Linked DNA regions of Homo sapiens: region 1 is linked to region 2. The links come from fine-mapping of genetic effects on plasma protein levels. Region 2 holds a variant in brackets. A gene starts in the other region. All regions are shown on their reverse strands.

Region 1 (9,818 bases), not on the chromosome of region 2:
ACATCTGACTTTTTGTTTTCAATGTTTTTGGTCACTAATTTTTAGCACTGTTTTATTGCTGCTTATTAGAGCTAATGGTTTTTAATATTGTTTTTAAACATACTTTTATTGCTAGAAGTTCTATTTGGTTTCTTTTGAGATATGTCTACTCTTTTCTCATACAATTCTGTCATTTCATTTCTTTTATATCCCTTTAAAAATATCTCCAATCACTTAAACATTCTTATTTTATGTTTTCTGTCACTTTATTTTTTGATATCCTGAGGTCATGAGATACTAATTCTCTGTTTTTCTCTCTCTCTCTCTCTGTGTGTGTGTGTGTGTGTGTGTGTGTATGTTTCTTGACTATTTTTCATAGTCTTTTATCTCAGTGTAATAGTAATAACAATGACAATTATTATTATTATTATTGCACAGCAGGAATTTTCTTCTTGTGTACCAGAAGTCATAGAAAGTCACTTAAAAGAAGTCTTATATTTGCTTCTTCAGAAGACCCTGGGAGTTTAATGCTACTTTTTGATTTTAGAATTTCCATATCAGTGAGGAGTGTGATCTCGGACCTTGTACCTGCAAGTGGCAAAGCTTGAGATTTGACATTTAGTATAGGTGCATTGGTTTTCCACAAGGGCACGTGCAGCTGGCAAGCTTCGGCCAACATGCAAAGTTTTAAAGTTTCAAAAGTTTCTTTTTGTAGGAGATATAATTCTTCAAAGCTTACTACTCTTATCAGAAGAATCAGTAATATCATCATCTTTTCTGGCTTCCAAAATTTGTTGTTTTCAGTTCTGGTGTGGATGTTAAAATCCCACTCTATTTTCTTAGGGTCCCGATAGAGTCTGAATCCCTGTGTTCCACCCTCTCCAAATTCTTGCACCACCTATTGCTTTCTCTGTCCATCTTCTGCTATGTCTTTTTTCTAGCACCTGGGGATTTTCTTTTCTTAATTTAAAGCTCATCTGTGAATTTAAAAATTGGGCATTTTACTTAGCTTTGATATGTGTATATGGTAGGAAGGGATCTAAGGGTCGTTAGAGTCAACCATGTTTACTGAACTTTTCCTCATGTAGTCAGTACTTATATTAGTTTTCCGTGGATGCTGTAACCAACTACCACAAATTTAGTGGATTAAAACAACACAAATTTATTATCTTACGGATGGTTGTTCAGAAGTCTAAAACAGTCTTGACTTTTTTGGGCAAGAGTCAAGTTATCAGCAGGGTTGTATTCTTTTCTGGAGGCTCTAAGGGATAATCTTTTTCCTTGCCATTTCCAATTTCTAGATGCCTCCCATATTCCTTGTCTCATAGCCCTTCTATATTTTCCCATCTTCATAGTCAGCAACAGGAAGTCGAGTTCTTCTCATATTGCATTAATCTGACCTCCTCTTATGCCTCCTTCTTCCACATTTAAGGGCCCTCGTGATTATATTGGGCATACCCAGATAATCTGAAATAATCTTCCTATTTTAAGGTTACCTGATTAACAATCTTAATTCCATCTGCAACCTTAAATCCCCTTTGCCATGTGAGGTAACATACACAGGTTCCACTGATTAGGAACTGGAAAAGACTGTTTCTTAAGGGGAAGGGGATTGGAATATTATTATGCCTACAACAATGATTGCAAGCAAAATTTTAACATTGTCTAAAAGGAGTTTGAGTGTATGTAGATATAATACATAAGACAACTACAACCTAAAGAGTTGAGGATAAAGGGATTTGATGTGGTAGTAAAGCTTCTGTATTCGAACTGAAGTGGTAATGTATGGACTCTAGGTAGAAGGTGAAAAGTTAAGTATGTATATTGTATTCCCTAGAATACCAATTTTAAAAGCTTCACAAAGAGATATAGTCAAAAGAACACATAGATAAAATGGAATACTGAAAATACTGGCATTCAGTGGATAGAGACCAAGAATTCAACTAACATCCTACAAGGCACAGGACAGCCCCAATAAAGAATTATCCAGCCCCAAAATGTTAGTAGTTATAATGTTGAAAACTCCTGCCCAGGTTGAGAAACTCTGCCCTAGCTAATACAATGGCTCACCTTTACTATGGGTTTCCAAACCTTATACCTTAGTTTTAGAGAAACAACTCTTCACACCTCCCCATACTCATATTTTAATGATTTCCATACTATTTAATTAGGTCAAATAATTACAGTAGCAGGTTCAACTAGAATTATTTTGGGTACCAAATACCACTGTTCTGGAGGGAGCCTCAGTGTGTATGGTACTGGAGATAAGCCCATTAACCACCAGCTTTCAGCATATGGATGAGAGTCAGAGAAACTCGAGAGTATCCCTACTTTCATGAGTTGGTTGAACACAGGTTGGTTAGGAGGACTTTTATGTGGAAATATATATGTGCATATGTATATTTATGTTTTATTCTTTTCTCTAATGATAGCATTTTAAATGCTACGTTATTTAAAATTTATTTCGTGTAGCTTCTGTAGATACTTATTACAATTGAATATTTTAGATGCACAGCTGTAGAAAGGTCTTTAATTCTCTGATGATTAATTTCTTTTCATTGATTAATTAAATTGTATTATTTATTTGGCATAGTTTTTCAAATTTGGGAAATTGCATATGACAATCCTTTATCACTTGTAAGTACTGAAATATTTCTCAAACTTTACAAAGTTACAAATAGAATTAAATGGGAAATTCGATAAGAGAGAATTAAAAATTAATTTAAAAGAGCTCCCGAATTCTGAATCTTTTGTCTTAAAAATTCTAAGGGCAGATCTAAAAATACCTCTTTCCCTATAGTATAATATAGTATATGTATTCCACTATATGATAATATCTATAACTATATATCTATAGATAAAATGTATATTATACTCCTGCCTTGCAGGGGGCTCAGACTACCCAGTAGGCATTTTGGTAACTGTAGCTGTTAGTATCCAGTTGGAGAATTCAGTACCCACATGTTTGCATGGAAGGTTAAGAAACCCAATTGATCTTTGTACAGATTAATACCATAATGGTTTTTTAAACTCTTAACTTTTCCAAAATGAAAGTGGAATGCCATTCCTCAAAATTTACCTAAAAATTTTAGGGCTATGTTCAAAAAATATTATGTACCATTGATCTTGAACATACATGTGCCTGCTGAAAAATGGATCTCAAAGGACACCACTTTTATGGTCCCGGACATATGTGGTGAAGGGCAGGTAGAGCCTGCATGAGTGTGGTCAACAGTGGGATGGCTCTTCTCTCTCGCCTGGGCTCCATCTCCTCCCTCTGCTTATTTACGTATTTATTTATTTCTCTCTCTCTCTCTCTCTCTAACCATCTCCTCTATGTAGGTAGATATTTCGGCGTGAACAGACGCCCTGGCTCAGTTCCCCTTGCCTTCTGCTGTATGCTGGTCCCAGAGAGCCCGAGTCCGGGTCTCCACGCTTTATTTGGCAGGGGGCGCGCGGGTTCCGGAGCTGTCCAGCACCTCCTGGCCAAGTTCTCTGCGCTCTCCGCGCCCGGGAAGCTCTCCGCGCCGGGGAAGCTCTCCAGCGCCCCGCCCCCGGCAGGGAACCTCTCCACCAGGACACCCGGGGCTTCCCAGGCTCGCCATCCGTCCCCACCAGTCTCTACCTACTTTGCCCAGCTCCACCTCGGCAGTGCAGCGTGTTTTGGTGGCCTTCCTCCGCACGCCCTGGAGGGGGAGTGCCCTGCACCCCGGGGCTGCTCCGGAGCCCAGTGCACGAGTGCACATGGGCTTCCCTCCTTTGCTTAAAGGGCAGGCGAGCGCTACTCGCTCCAGCCTTGCCTCCTGCAGCTGGGTGGTCTTTTTTCTCTCCTGTCTTTCAAGACACGCGCCCGAAATCGAGGGGTGAGAGCAAAGACCGCCCATCAACTTAGCACCTTGGATTTAGAGCTTTCAATCCCGAAAGGAGGTTGGCATTGCCCGGGTCATCGAGAGAGGGAGGGAGAAGAGCTGAGGCTGCAACGGCTCCTGGGCTCCCTAGACCGGGTTTGGCATCCAGGAGACCGTGCGGGAGACCGACGCTGAGCGCCGGCCTCGCCCTCGGCGGCCCCTCCCTCCTCCTTACCCCGCCTCCCCCGGCCCGCCCCTCCCTCCCCGGAGGAGCAGTCTCTCCGCGCGTCTCCCGGAGCTTTCTCCATTGTCTCTGCCTTTACAACAGGTTCGGGCGGCGGGGAAGACGGGGGGGTGCGGGGCCGCCCCAGCCCGGGCTTTCTTGGGGCCGCCCCCCTTCTACCGGGTGTGCGAGTCTTTGGCTGCTTTTATTCGGCTCGGGAGCTAATTCCCCGACGGAGCCGCGCCGGGGCGAGTCCGACCCCTCCCTCCGGGCCCCCTCCGGGCCGCGCTGCCGCCTCGGCCCTGCGTGTGGGAATGATGTGCGCATTGGAGGGTCTAAGTTCTTCACGCGCCTGGGGAGGCCTCCCTTTTCTTTCTTAGGCAACCAAAGCGTATTAATCCTACTGATCAGTAAATCCGAGGCAGCAGCAGGAGAGACAAACGTTATTTTCCCGCTTGATTCCAAGAACCTCTTCGATTTTTATTTTTATTTTTAAAGAGGGAGACGATGGACTGAGCTGATCCGCACCATGGAGTCTCGGGTCTTACTGAGAACATTCTGTTTGATCTTCGGTCTCGGAGCAGGTGAGTGGCCGCAGAGCTGGGGCTGGGGAAAGGGATGGCTCCCGCCTCGGGGCAGCATGGGCTGGCTGGGGAAGCCTCGCTTTTCCCGGACCCAAAGTAGGTCTGGAGTGGGAAGCTTGGAGTAAGGGGGCGGGTTTGGATATGGATTTTTTTTTTTTCTGTGCTTGCCTTGGAGACCGCGAGGCGGATCACGCCCCTAGTCCAGGGTCGGAGGGCTGAGGGGGAACTTTGCAGAGAGAAGGGTTTAAAGGAGGTCATGGAAACGGGACTGGGTGCTCCGCTATTTAAAGCTTGGCTGCTGATCTCAGGTAAGGCTCTCGGCGGAGGAGGAGGCAGTCGCCTCTCATCTTCAGTTCCCAATATTGTCGCGAAAACGCGGTTCTTTGCTGCCCTGGAGGAAGAGACTTGCATTTTGATGGAGCTTTTCCTTTTTCTCTCTCCCACCTCATACCCCTCACCAGTTTGGGGGCTTGGTGTGGACCCTTCCCTACAGATTGACGTCTTAACAGAGTTAGAACTTGGGGAGTCCACGACCGGAGTGCGTCAGGTCCCGGGGCTGCATAATGGGACGAAAGCCTTTCTCTTTCAAGGTATGCCCGGCGTGCTGCATCCCCACTGTGATTTCAGTTCCGATAACCCCGGCAGGAGTTGCTCTTGCCGCTTGTCCTAACTTTGTATTGCCTCATGGATGACAGTACTTTAGCTGAGGTGTAGAAGGGCCAGTGTGAGACACATATCCCTATCTCTTTTAAGTGGTTTTTTCTCCCCTGCCTCACCCTTCTCCTTCGTACTTTGTACTCTTGCCAGTTCTAATGGATAGTCCCTTAATTACTGAGCAGAAACTCCTATGGCAGATGGTTGATTTTAGAATCTGGGGAACAATGAATTATAACACAAACGCCTCGTTTGGGTGAAATTGATTTAGGTAGGAAAAAGGATAGCTTAATCTTAGTTAAGACACTGATCTCTGAAAGTTTCAGGTACGATGGTGCCCTGCTTGGAGGAATTGTTTTATGGGGGTAGCTTTCTGGAAAAATTAATGCCTCTGAATATTTTTACTTACTGCATATCACAGTCGCAGTATATTTGAGGCAAAATTTATCTTTGAAAGACCCTCATTCTTCCTTCATCCACCAATAACAAGAGAAAGGGAATAATGGTCTCAAAAGTATTTTGGAAAGATTTCAAGTAAATGTTAATCTAGAAGTGTATCTCATATTATCATTAATTGTGTACTTACGATTTTACAACTTTTTTTTGAAGTCAATGGATATTGGCTGGGCACAAATGTCTACATCTCAAATTATATTTAAATGTGTTGTGCAGTCAGAAGCAAATTCCAATGCAGCAAACCTTCAACTTTGATTAGAGCTTTTGAGGATTGCTTGTTTGTGGAAAGTTGCCGTAATAAGAGCTTCTAAAAGGTAGCTAAACGTGTACAGACAGACTAGATTCATGTATGGTGAAGAATACATGAAGGCAAAAGAGAATGGAGTTTGGTTTAACATATCTAATGGACTAAAGCTTCTTGCCCTACCTCACCCAGATTTTTGTTGTTGTTGTTGTTATTTTGGTGCCATGGCTTTGAAAGTGCAATTCATAATTACTAAAGAGTTGGATATGCAAAAGGAAACCACTTCGGAAAATATGCTACCAAGAAATAGAAATAAAATAAAACTTGAGTGTTTCTGTAGTGGTGTTGTTGCCTGATATAGCCAGTATGTGTCACCATGGACACTAAAACCAAAGCTTAGAGTTGGGAAAGGAGGAAATTCACATGTGTTACATTTACTTAAAACAAGTTTGCTCTTATAAAAAATTAAAATGCAATTTTCTGGCTTAAAAATTATTGTTTAAATTTTATGTTTAAGTTAATTTTTTATTGTAACAAATATTTATGGTAATGTTTTATTCACTTAAGGGTCTTTTATAAGAGGGTGGGGCTTGGATATTGAATCCTTTAAAAACAATGACCAAATATAATAAAGAAGATAAGGCTACATTGTCAGCAGAATTTCACACAGTTGAATAGAAGTGTCAGTAGGGTTAACCTTCTGTTTTTTTTTTTTTGTTGTTGTTGTTTTGTATTGTGTTGTTTTTATCTCTGATTTTTAATCCCTATGAACTGGAAACAAAGTTATTTCAGGACTGCCAATTCGAGTAACTGGAAAGCTTTATGGAATCTAAAGCTCCTAATAAACAAATGGTATTGTAGTGCTCTTAAAATTTACAAAGCTCCTTTAAATTTTATTAGTATTCTACCTAGTTTCCTCTGAAGAGTGTCTGATCTGTCACAAATAGAAACCTTCAGGACTGTGCATTTTATATTCTGATGCTAGAAAATTAAACCATTTTTAGGAAATAGTCTCAGGAATCGATAACTTTTCCTGGTTAATTAAAAATGTTTAGTTATTCATTTTTATTTAAATTGTCAAATTCTTCAAGGTAGGTGTTCAAAATACATAAGGCATATAAAATGTTTTGTTTGAATTGTCCATAGTAACTAGATATCCATGTACATTGATGAATTGGTTGTTTTTCCTTCCTTGTTGATGCCGAGCTCAATATTTAGACAGAGTAAATGCCTAACAAATATGGTTTATGAGATTTGAAGGTGTAAAATTTCATTTTCTGCCAAATTATGGACTTTATTTAATATAACCAATCAATCAGCAAGTATTTCCTGCATGCCATGTTCTCAGTAGGCATATATTACTGATGTATTGATTATGCTCTTGTGATTTCTTTTATTCTAAGATTCGGATTATGAAATTGACAAAAGGTGGCCCTTTGGCCATGCATGGAATTTCGCATTACCTTGGCAAGGTCTTTGCTAATAGCATTTGGAAACTTGTTAAGAAGTCAGTTCCGAGTCTTGCTGCTTCATTGAGATTTCCTTTGGCTTTAGAGAGAAAAAAATATACAGACTGAAGATTTTATAGATTCTATTTACAGTGAGTTGAGGGTGCTGCAGATATTTTGTACGGTATATACATATACACTATACATAGTCATAGCAGGAATAGTAACAAATTACAAAATCCGTGAGATGCTCTCAGGTTTCATATGAACCTATCATATAAGTTTCTTTGTGCTATCAGATATGTTCTAAATAGATGGAAGAGATTTTTGGACCATCAAATTTTTCCTGCAGTAATGTAACCATCTTCTTCTGTCTTTTAGCTTTAAAATAAAGAAATCTCAACATATACTTTCCCAGTGATTTTTGCTCATTTAATATTGCTTTTCCTTGTGCCAGTTTTTCTCCTTAGTGGATTTTGAGATGCATGCAATTCAATACCTTTTGAAACTCGTAAATTTATTATTATCTATACCTAATAAAAACAAATGGAAATATATTTTAAAGTCATATGTTTTAAAAATAATAATAGCAACTATAGTATCACTAAAATGGTTTTGTTGTTGTTGAAATTTGATTTATAGTTGTTTTGGAAATTCAAGTAATAAGATGCTAAATTAGATTACACCTTAATAAATATGGCTTTTGATCTTTGCCAATTACCATAATTTTCAAAAAAGGAATCCAGGCAATTTTCTAGTCATTTCTAGCTATAATCTGACTTGCAGCCACAAAAATACACTTATTATGCTTTTAAAAATTAGAGGAGTGAATGTAGACAATAAAAAGACCTATGAAAGGTTATAAAGGGTTCTACTTTCTAAAATCTAGGAAGTATTCCCCAAGATAATGATCATAATAATGTTTTTTTCCTCTCTGTACATGAGGGATCAGGAATGAGAGTATACAGAAGCACCATTCTAGGACTTTCTAGCAATGTTAGCATGATTTTTAGATCTTTGATTTTAACAATTAATCTGGCCAGGTTCCCAAAGTAGATAATTTCCTCTGTTGGTTTAATACAATTTCTTCTGAAGTGTTAACAGATTTTATAATCTCATTAATCCATAGAAGAGAAGTGGATAAAATCAAAGCATGTTTTTTTTACAAGTTGTTAAGTTGAAAATAAGCTTAGTAGTTATTTGTAAAAAACTTTAAGGTTTTAAAGGGAAAAAAAGGTCGTACGTCTCCTCTTATGCCAGTGTTACGCAGAGTGAAATAGGCATTTGGTAATAGACCATGGACTTTAGTAGGCAAAGGTAACTGCATTGAGGAAATCGAGGTGGCACTAATTTGTCTTCAGTATGATGGTTGGTGAGCATCTGTGGACTTTGAAGTGATGGCTGTTGGTGCCCAAATAGTGTGGAATAACACAGTGTTTAAGAGATGCACTTAGAAACAAGATAGACTGAGGTGGAATTTCATTAGTTGTTTTACTGTGGTGAAGTTACTTAATTTCTCTAAGCTCCAGTACCCTCAATTATAAAATGATCATTGTTATGACAATTAAGCGAGTTACTTTCATTCTTTCAAATAAGTTATTTTTGGGAAACTAGCATACTGCTAGGTGTTAGGCACATAACAAATGAAGACGTTAGAACTTAACTTTGATTTCATAGTGTCTTAAAAATAGCCGTTGAACAATTACATAGTTACAGACCTAATCACCATTAAGATAAATTATATGAAGAAAAACTGAAGATATAATGGGAATCTATATTTTAGTTAGGGGAGTCTCAGGCTCAGGGAAACCATCTTTGAAGAATAGTCATTTAAGCTGATAGTTGAAGGATATGTAAGAGTAGTCCAAAGAAGAGAAGCTATGGGGATAGGCAAAGGGACTAGTGTGTGAGCAAGGTTCTGAGCATGGGATGAATGTGCATTTGAGAACGTGGAGGAAGTCTAGAGAAGTAGAAACATAGGGCATGTGATATGAAATAAAGTATATGAGGAAAGCAGGAACCAGGTTACATGGTAGGCTATACTAATAGAGCAGAATTGAAAATTTATCATTATGGAAATATATATTATGGTGGGCAGAATAATGGTCCTGCATAGATGTTCATGTCTTAATTCTTGGAACCAAACAATAGGTTACGTTATACAGCAAGGGGAAGTTAAGTTTGCTCATCAGCTGACTTTAAGATTAGGAGGCTATCATAGGTTATCTGGGTGAGCCCTGTGTAATCAGAAGAATCTTTTGAAATGGGGAGAAGGAAGCAGAATAGTCAGTGTAGAGTGATGTGATATGAGAAAAACTAGTCTGGCCACTGGTGGCTTTAAAGGTGATAGTGGGCCACAAGCCAAGGACTGCAGGCAGTTTT
Region 2 (9,818 bases):
CAATGCAATGGAATTTAACCTTGTTTTATGCTATGGGGTCCTTTGATCATCCAGGGAAATCTATAGTGCACCTCTCCAGAAAATGCATATACGAACAGGCACACAGACGCTTGTGTGAAGCGTGTGCATGTACATGTGCTTCACACTCATTAGGGAGTTAAATCATCCTGGAGTCCAGACACAGCTTCCCTCCATTCTCTAATGAAGACGTGACCTTGAGCATGAGCATTAAACGAGTACAGCAAATGGTATTCCTTCTTCATTCACAAGTGACCATTCCATTTTAAAACTGAGGCTATTCAATCAGTCCAGAAACCTAAGCACATCACATGCGCATGGTTGGAATGGAGCAGAAGTGTTTAGGGACCGAATCGAATGTCTGTGAATGGTTAGACCTGTTTTCTTTGTCTTTTTATTTTTATTTTTATTTTTATTTTTTTTTGAGACGGAGTCTTGCTCTGTCACCCCAGGCTGGAGTGCATTGGTGCGATTTCCACTCACTGCAACCTCCGCCTCCTGGGTTCAAGCAATTCTTCTGCCTCAGCCTCCTGAGTGGCTGGGACTATAGGTGTGCGCCACCACGCCTGGCTAATTTTTGTGTGTGTTTTTTTTAATAGAGACGCGGTTTCACCATTTCTCTCAGGAGAAAAGCAGCATCTCTGAAAGTGTGGTCCCCAAGACCACTGCATCAGAATGACCTGGAAGTGCTGATTAAAACACAGATTCCGGGCGGGCGGCGGTGGCTCACGCCTGTAATTCCAGCACTTTGGGAGGCCGAGGCGGGCAGATGACGAGGTCAGGAAATCAAGACCATCCTGGCTAACACGGTGAAACCCCGTATCTACTAAAAATACAAAAAATTAGCTGGGCGTGGTGGCGGGTGCCTGCAGTCCCAGCTACTCGGGAGGCTGAGGCAGGAGAATGGCGTGAACCCGGGAGGCAGAGCTTGAGTGAGCCGAGATCGCGTGACTGCACTCCAGCCTGGTGACAGAGCGAGACTCCGTCTCAAAAAAAAAAAACAAAAAACAAAAAACAAAAAACAGATTCCCTGGTACCCCCACCACAGACCTTTCCAGAGAAGTCTCTGAGGCTGAGCCCAGGAATTTACTCTAGTAGCCAACTTCCGGGATGACTGTCGTAAATACTACAATTTGAGAACTATTGCTCTGGAGGCTGAATTAAGCAATGAGCATACTGATGAATACTCACTTTTGAAAAGCCTAAAGGTAGACCTCCATGAAAACTATTCGTAGGATTTCCTTTCTTCCTTTCCTTATCTTAAAATGATATAATCTTTTTGAAAAAAAACCCACAAACCTGCGTGTATATCATTTCACTTCAATGCATAAATGTGACCTATACCTGCATAAAGACTATTTTCAGTTTTTTCCTTTTTGCATGGCTCCCACCCCTTTTCTCTGCCCTTGTCTCCACCAGGCCCCTAGTAATCTGTACTGCAACCTCCTTGATAATCCTTCATATATACCCACAAACATATATACCCAAATATATATAAATAGGTGTTGCTTTTTATATTACTAAAATAGAAACATCTTTTCCATGCTTTTCTGTACCTTGCTTTTCTCACTCAAAAAAACCTAAAGGAATATTCCCATGTCACAAAATTTGACTCTAATTTATTCCTTTGAATGGTTACATATGACTTCACAGTATGGATAAGTCATAACATACTCAGTCATTCTCCATTGACAGGCATATTTTGTCCTAGCTTCCTGCTGCTATAAATGATACAATTAACAACCTTGGGGGCAGGGAGTGGTGGCTCATGCCTGTAATCCCGGCAATTTGGGAGGCCGAGGCGGGTGGATCATGAGACCAGCCTGGCTAAGATGGTGAAACCCCGTCTCTACTAAAAATACAAATACAAAAATTAACTGGGCATGGTGGTGGGCACCTGTAATCCCAGCTACTCGGGAGGCTGAGGCAGAGAATTGCTTGAACCCGGGAGGCGGAGGTTGCACTGAGCCGAGATCTTGCCACTGCACTCTAGCCTGGGCCACAGAGCAAGACTCCATCTCAGAAAAATAAAAAAAAAAAAATCCTTGCATATTATACATGTGCTTTATTTCTAGTGGATAGATTCTTACTCCTAGGATAGAGAAGTGTATGTGTTTGCTACAATAACAATTAATATTAGTAATTCCTGCAGGGTTTTATGTATTTTCATTTTTGATAACTCCTGCTAGGTTTCTTTCCAAGTAAGACAGTATTTATTTGAATGGTAATTTTTATGGGTATTTACTTGCCTTTCACAATTTCTCATTATAAAAATTTATATTGATAAGTGAGGTGTAATTAGTTATATACATTTATATTATTGAATTTTAAATGTTCTTCATTTTACAAGTACCAATTTTTCCAAGTACCCTAGTAGTCTACCACCTGAGTTTCATTAAAATTGCACAAAACAGAAAAATACATATTAGTTCTGAGATGCTATAGGGGTATAAGCAAGAAAACAAAACACAAACAGGCTGCCTTCTATGAAACTATCTTCCAAATATTTTAGATCAGAAGATGGACAGGTAGATGGATAGACAGAGATATGAAAAAAAACCTCCAGTATTTGTTTTGACTTGCCAGCCACCAAATCTGGTAGGGTCAGTTTTTCTGTAATGTTAAATATGCAGGACTGGTCAAGGTCAAAGAACATTTTCTGGGAACAATAGCCATTCTCTTCATTGTTTTTTTAATGACATGGAGAAGGAAAAAAAAAAAAGGAGAGAGAGAGAGATGTGACCTTACTAGGTCCACTTCAACAAATCCTTGTTTGATTTTAACATCTCTAAGTGTCCAGCAAGGCATCAAAGGCACACAGGCAGTTTACCTTACAGCCAGTTCCAAAGTGCCATTTACAATTCAGGAGAAATGACAGGCTTCAAAAGGGGCAGTTTAAGGAAGACAAGAGCAGTAGAGAGGGGGATAGAAGAAGTGATGGAGAAGGAGGAGAGAAAGGATAAAGGATTAGGTCTGTGAGCTAACAGAGGAAAACAGCTTAATTATGGAAGAAAAGACACATGCATAGGATAGGTCGAACAGGCAGAGTTGCTGTGGAAGCACATTCCAGGAAAATCTTAAGAGATTACTTTAATAATAAACCATGCATTCTTCAGCAAGCCATCACGGGATTAACTACCCCTTTCCTAGGCTGGGAGCACAGTCATTTGTTTTATTTTATTTTTTCCTTCTCTCTCACAGGCAGGTTTTCTGCAACGGACAATTGCCATTCAAAGACTATTGTTTTTCAAACATTGAACTGACTTTTCCTCCCCTTAATTTTCTAAACATAAATTTCAGTGGTGATAAGAAAAGACCATTATTTAGGCAGGGTAAATATCTGGGTGGGCTTTGGCGTGATTCTCCAGAGGGAAAGATGTTCATTTTAGACTTGTTGAAAAGTGAACAACTTAGATGAGACAGAGACAATGTTTCACGAGGGATAAAAAGAGTTAAATTTCTTTTCTTTTTTTTTCTTAATGTGAGCAGGACATTGAATTACTGCCAGAAGCAATATCGGTGCCCTAGAGATATAAAAATACAGTTCAAACCAGAATTCTCCACTGTCGACTCTTCAGATTTCTGTGCAAAATAAGAGGTGTCTATTTTAAGTTGTAAGTGTGAGCCCACTGCTCTTAAATGAACTGTTTTCATCAAAGTCTTCTCTTGAAACTACAACTCATAGCAGATGAAATCATTTTCTTCCTCTGGCTTCTTAGACAAATCCCTTCCATTTGGTGGGGTAGAGCAAACATAAGTTAGTATTTCTTGGTAAGAGTCTTTCAAAAAAAAAAAAAATAGAATTGAGTGAGCACTTCTTAGTCTAGAAAATATTACATATTGAGGTTAAAAGAGACACCCATGTCTTTCTAATTATCAAAGTCTCTATTTGCCTGAAGTCAGCAGCCCTTTTTCCAGCTACCTAGCCAATAGAAATGAAACTGGACTTCTAGATTTTAGAAACAAAGCCTTGTGTTCTAAAATGTACTAGAATTACATTTCTCTGCATAAATGTTATAAATAGAATACTATCCTAGGACTAAAATTTGTATACTTCCTGTCATTCACACAAAGTCATTTTTTAAAATAGCAAATTACCTCTGAGGAATATTGAAAACTGCCAGCATGGCCCTCCCTGCCTCCACACCCCTAGGTGTGTCAGGGGATGAGAAATAGTAGAGGCTGGGGAAGTAGAATTCTGGGCCAGCTGTGCTGCTCTGCACCCCTCAGTCTCCCCGAACAACGGTTGTTTCAAGCCTGACCTACTTGAGAGCAGACATTGCCACTCACATTGAGCTACCCCAAATTACACAGTGGCTTTGCAGTCGAGGCTAGGCACGGACCACAAAATATATCCTTGATGTCCCACGAGCCCTATTTGAACCCTCAGTTTCCAGAGGTAAAATGCAAATCCACTGTGTTGCTTACTCGATAAAATCAATAACCCCCTCCCATCCGAGATACAATTTAGCATTTTCACATTTACTACGTGCTGCCTCTGACTTTAAACAATTAAATTTTTTTCTTAAAAAAAGGGAAAAGAGACACGTCTTTCACAAGAGTAATTTCAGAATTCTCCAAAAAGCAACAGAGCTTCTGTGGATGTTTTACAATAATTCTTGATTTTAAAATATGGAGAAAATGAATTCTCAGCTTGTTAACACTCATTAGGATTTGCTGCGGAGTACCTTCTACCGCTCAGCACTCTACGTTAACATTTTTAAATATTTTATTTCTTGCAGTTCATGTTTTTCCTAGAGTTATAGGAAGTGCTATGGAAATTCATGCAGATAAAGTCATGTTATGTGTCTACATATAGGTGTATATACACTGTAAGGGAAGCCTGTATAGAATCTCTGATTGTATCAGAATTATAACTTATTTGATAGGCTACATAGACGTGAACATGTTTTGCTCATATCGATTTCAGAGAGAATATTATTTTTATATCCATATATATGATTATATTTCATAGGTAAATACAGTATGTTTCACATATGCACACATAGATTTCCCACTAACTTAAGCGCATTTGCATCTGCAATGAGGGAGACACTAATTTCTTCTAAGGGGAGCAAATCCAATCGCGCGATCAACTTTAGAAACTGCAGATCTGCGCAGGAACCGTTGTCCCTTGTCAGAAAAGTCAGGAGTAAAGGCAGTCCTTTGTTCAAAGGGCCCCAACGGGTTGGTTAGGATGACTCCGTGTGCCACATCACTCGCAGTGGCAATCCAGGGAACGGATCTGTGAAACGAAGCTCGGTGGATCCCACCCCTTTCCTCCAGAGCTTCCCTTTCCTGTCCTTATTTGCACCCGCCCCCCGCCCGCGTCGGTCTGGGGCTTTTGACTTCTCCCCGAACACATTTCCCCTCCCGTCGCTGGGTCCCTGCGATCGCCCCCAGCTGGTGGGGCTCGCGGAGCTCAGGGGAGCGGGGTCCTCTGCGCCGCTGCAGCGCGAGTTAATAAACAGTTAAGTTTGGAAGACTCTGCAGACACGTTGAGGGGGAGTTACCAAGCCCAGGCAGCAAAAACATCCTGGCAC[A/C]TTCCTGGGGAGTCCTCAGCTGCCAGCATCTGATTAGAACCATATCTCTCGCCGGGAGTGGCCGCGCGGCTCCGAAGCTCCCGGCCGGCGGCTATTTAAGCGAGGCCCGCCGCATCCGCTGCGCTGTAGCCTGGAGGCTCCGGGCGCGGGGAAGTCATGCTCGCTTCACGGAGGCAATAGCTAGCCGGTGAGTAGCTTCGAAACCCTTCTTCCCTCTGGCTCCATTTTTTTTTTAAAGATCTCCTTCTCTCCTTTGCTCCCCCTCTCTCACCCCCCCGCCCCCCGCTACCCTTCTTTGAGTACAGACCTTGGGCTGTGGGGAATCTTAGAAATGAGACCCTGTGCTTGGGGAAACCAGCAGTTTTGTGGCCTGACATCTGAGGAATGCTTCCGCGGAATGTATTTACCTTTCGAATCCGACTCCAGATGCCCAGCTTGTGACATTTAACAAACGCCTCCTTTTGTGTCGTGTGTGTGTGTGTGTGTGTGTGTGTGTGTGTGTGTGTGTGTGTGTGTGTGTAAAAGGTCTGCGGGCAGCCCTCCTAGGACACTGAGGTGGCTGCTGACCGCCTAATTAACTCCTCGAAGGGTGTTTATTTTTGCTGTGTGACAAAGGCTGGGGACCTGGCTTGTGCCCATAAGGAGCTTTTTCCTGGTGACTGACAACATATGGCATTAAAATGTGAACTTTTGTCTTACACCGGCATTCCTAAGGAAGTATCTACCCAAGGGACTTAAGAAACTTGTTTTATATCCCCCGGCGCAGGGAGCATGGTTTATATGGTGCTTGCCTGCCTGTTGTAAGCTGGTTAAAAAGATTAAGTAAGAATTCTAAAAAAGGGGGGAAAAATGAATGGGTTAAAACCGTGGAGCCTCAGTCAACATAGCGGTTTTCATAGCATAGAGCTGACTCTGTTATTTGTTTCTGCTGTCTTTCCCTCTTGACTTAATTCTGAGCCTGGAATTCTGGTCCGCAGACAGTTTCAGCAGGGAGCTGAGTCCAAAGGGAAATTCAACTGGATTAAAAACACTTAAGGAATCTGGGTGTTATCTCCACCCCAACCACCCCCCACCTTTTCCCCTTTCTTTTTAGTTTTTGTTTGGAAGGAAGAGAGCCGCTCTGTAAACCGAGAAGAGCAGAAACAAGCTTCCAGACACATGGAAAGACTTAAAAATTATGGAGGGGCGACTTCACGAATAGTAAATGTTGCTATTGCTCTATAAAGTGACTTCATGAAAAAATTTCTGGCCTTAGTCAGGCAAAGCAGGGGCATGGGGGAGAAGGAGGTAAGATATAACTAATGCAAACAGAAGTAATGGGAGTGGAAAGCAGGCATCTACAAAAAATGCCTTTGAGATGTCTGATAAGCCTCTTGGAATGGCTTTGATGAGATGTATACTTGATTGTCCTTACAGTCTTGAGGTTGGCTTCTCACACAAAAGCACCTACTGGCTGTTGGGGAGGAGGGAGCTTGCAGCTACCAAATGGCTTGTCACCATGCTTCTTACCCCAGCAGCCAGACTTTGGGAGGCTACTTTTCTCTGAGCCAGGTGCCCCGCCCACTCCAGGTTCTGTGTCTCCCCTCTTGGAAGGGAGATGGCCCTCAGTGACACTGTAAGAAAGTTTATTGCCTTGAGAATTCGGGAGTATTTGAGTACAATGGGAAAGTCTTCTAGAGAAAGCATGAAGAAGACCTAGTGGTCTTTGCCAATGTGGATTTCTGGGACAGACCACTTCTTCCAAATCCTTAGTCAGTTTCCTCCTAAGGCCAACTAAATTCTTTTTCCTGTTGTTGGTGAATAACTTCCCCCTTCTTTTCCCACTCCCAGCTGGAAGGATCCCTTCTCATCCAAATGACTGACCTAGAAACCAGTCATTTTTCAGCTATGCCCTCCTATGCTTTAATGTATAACCAGAATAAGTAGATGGTAGAGGAATGTCTTCCAACTTTGAGCCCATACACGTATGTATTTGCCATTCTGGGGATCTTTGATCTTGATGGTTGATCTTTACCTGAGGATGTAAGTGAGGGAAGAAAGCACTTGTTACAAACCTTGTCTAATTTGTGAAGGGCAAACTCCAGAGTTTGTGTTTCTGCTAAAGACTTTTATAGTTTCAGATTAAACTGGAAGTCCAAATTCCTGTGCATTAGGCCTGTTTGTTGTCTTTCTCCAAAGGTTGAATGGATTTCACTGGCCTTGTTTGGGTTGAAGGGTACGGCTTTTAAGGCACTTGTTGGCATGAAGGTAGTACAGGGACCTCTGGCAGCTGCTGACCAGCTGTTTGGGGATGATATTTACTGGCCTGCTCAACCAGGCCTCGATTATCTGAAGGTTAAGGGAGCAGGAAGATATCTTCCTTGCTGAGTGCTCCTGGCCAAGCAGGAGGCTTTGCTGTGACATAGGCTCTTATGCTGCTTCATTTCTAACTCTACCCTCATATGTCCATAAACCTAAGTTTGCTACCACTGATATTTCATCTGGATAATTTTGAAGGCTCTGCGTGTTTCTCTTCCTCATTCTTTTGACCTGAGGATTTAATTATTGCTCTTCTTAAAGACAAAGCCAAGATGCTGAAATGCTTGGGAAAGCTGCTGAGAGTGAGCCCTCCTGGGGTTTGAAGTTGTCCTAATGCTCATCAGAACATACCTCCCCAGCTGGAAAGATTCGAAAGCTTACTGGCCAGGAAGGTTTAGGTAACTAACCAAACACATAAGGTTTTTTACCCTTTAGACAGAACCAGAATGGGAACCAGATTGGCAATATGAAACACCTGAGTAACAGGATGTGGTATTTTAAAATTCTCCCTGGCACTGCTATGTAATTCCAAAGTTGAAGCTGTGCCGCTGAATTGCACAAAGGTTGGCCAAAATCATATTTAGGTGAAACAGATTTTTGTTTTGTTTTGTTTTGTTTTGTTTGAGACAGAGTCTCCCTCTGTTGCCCATGCTGGAGTACACTGGCATGAACTTGACCCACTGCAGCCTCTGCCTCCTGGGTTCAAGAGATTCTGTGACCTCAGTCTCCTGATTAGTTGGGATTAGAGGTACCCGCCACCATACCTGGATAATATTTTTTTTTTTTTTTTGTAGTAGTAGTAGAGACGGGGTTTCACCATGTTGGCCAGGCTGGTCTCGAACTCCTGACCTCAAGTGATCCACCCACCTCGGCCTCCCAAAGTGCTGGAATTACAGGCATGAGCCCACCACACCCGGCCAGATGAATCAGATTTAACACCAGATATGTGTCTTTAAAGGAGACCCAACTCATAATATCAGCATATCCTGACTGGATTAACTGGTGGAAATCAGAAGGAAAGCAGACTCCTCAGTCTTTACTTAAAGACAGAAAACAAGCAAATTCCTGGTTAGGGGAACAAATGATGACTGGTACGGACACAGAGGGCTAACATTCAACACTGGCTGCCTCCAACAGGGCACAATTGGATAGTAGTTGAGAACTACCTTCTGAAGTACCATTTCCTGGGTTCAAATCTTAGCTACAGGGTTGCAGGTTACATGGCCTTGGGCACATTCCATAACCTCTCTGTACTTCAGCTTGCTTATCTGGGGAGAATAATAGTACCTACCCCAGGATTGCTGGGAAGACAGCTAATCTAATATACTTGGAATACTTTTTCCCATCTGATTTTGAAGGTTTTGTTTGTTTGTTATTACTCCCCCCTGAACAACTGAATTAAGTGTCTTTGTGAAAACTGAAAGCAAATGGAAAATTTCTTCATGAAAATTGAATACCCTTCACCTACTTGAAAAAGGTTAATTATTCAAGCACTTGATTTTAATAAAGCCAGTGCGTTTGCTTGTGCTCATGCTAGAACAGACAGGGAGTTACTCTCTGTTTTCGTCCTGGAAGCCTGCACTTTGGTTTGGTCAGGCTGACCTCGCTGGTCTCAATTAAGTCCTCCCCACACCCTCTCAGACTCCTGACAGAGAAGGAGCAATCCTTCCCCCTGAAGTCAGCATTGTCACAGAAGGAAGTGGGAAGGGAGGGACCACCCGGATTAAACTGAATGACTAGGCTAGAAATAAAAATTCTTCCGAGTGTGTGCAGGCCCCATACTATCCTTGCCCACATAGCTGGGCAGGTTGCCATGGTTACTCCCCTTCCCGCATCCTTCTACCCTGGAAGGAAGCCTGCCTCTCTAGGGGAAGTAGAATCTGAACAAATTGCTTCCTGGTCTAAAAATGGAAGTTACTAAGTGAAGTAGAATCTCCTCTCTACTTATATCACCCCCTC

Alleles and levels. Alleles are on the strand shown, and positions count from the first base shown. The strength of an association depends on the size of the effect and on how common the allele is.
With allele C in place of A in region 2, the plasma level of the protein whose gene starts at base 4,134 in region 1 is lower (weak association).

Evidence for each region. A credible set is the group of variants that fine-mapping cannot tell apart. PIP is the chance, under the fine-mapping model, that this variant and not a neighbour inherited with it causes the effect. The UK Biobank Pharma Proteomics Project read protein levels with antibody pairs (Olink). The fine-mapping took linkage between variants from a reference panel, not from the people measured, so its PIPs are less certain.
Region 1: NELL2 starts here. The variant in region 2 is the best candidate, but not a certain one, in a credible set for the plasma level of the NELL2 protein (UK Biobank, PIP 0.67).

The regions. Positions count from the first base shown.
Region 1 is chr12:44,870,631-44,880,448 of GRCh38, reverse strand. It overlaps NELL2 (neural EGFL like 2), which reads left to right and starts at 4,134. Exons shown (of 20, transcript NM_001145108.2): 1 at 4,134-4,634; 2 at 5,096-5,224. The coding sequence starts at 4,580. RefSeq lists enhancers at 3,010-3,509, 3,510-4,011.
Region 2 is chr5:39,420,734-39,430,551 of GRCh38, reverse strand. It overlaps DAB2 (DAB adaptor protein 2), which reads left to right and starts at 5,572. Exons shown (of 15, transcript NM_001343.4): 1 at 5,572-5,748. The variant A/C (reference allele first, on the strand shown) is at 5,562.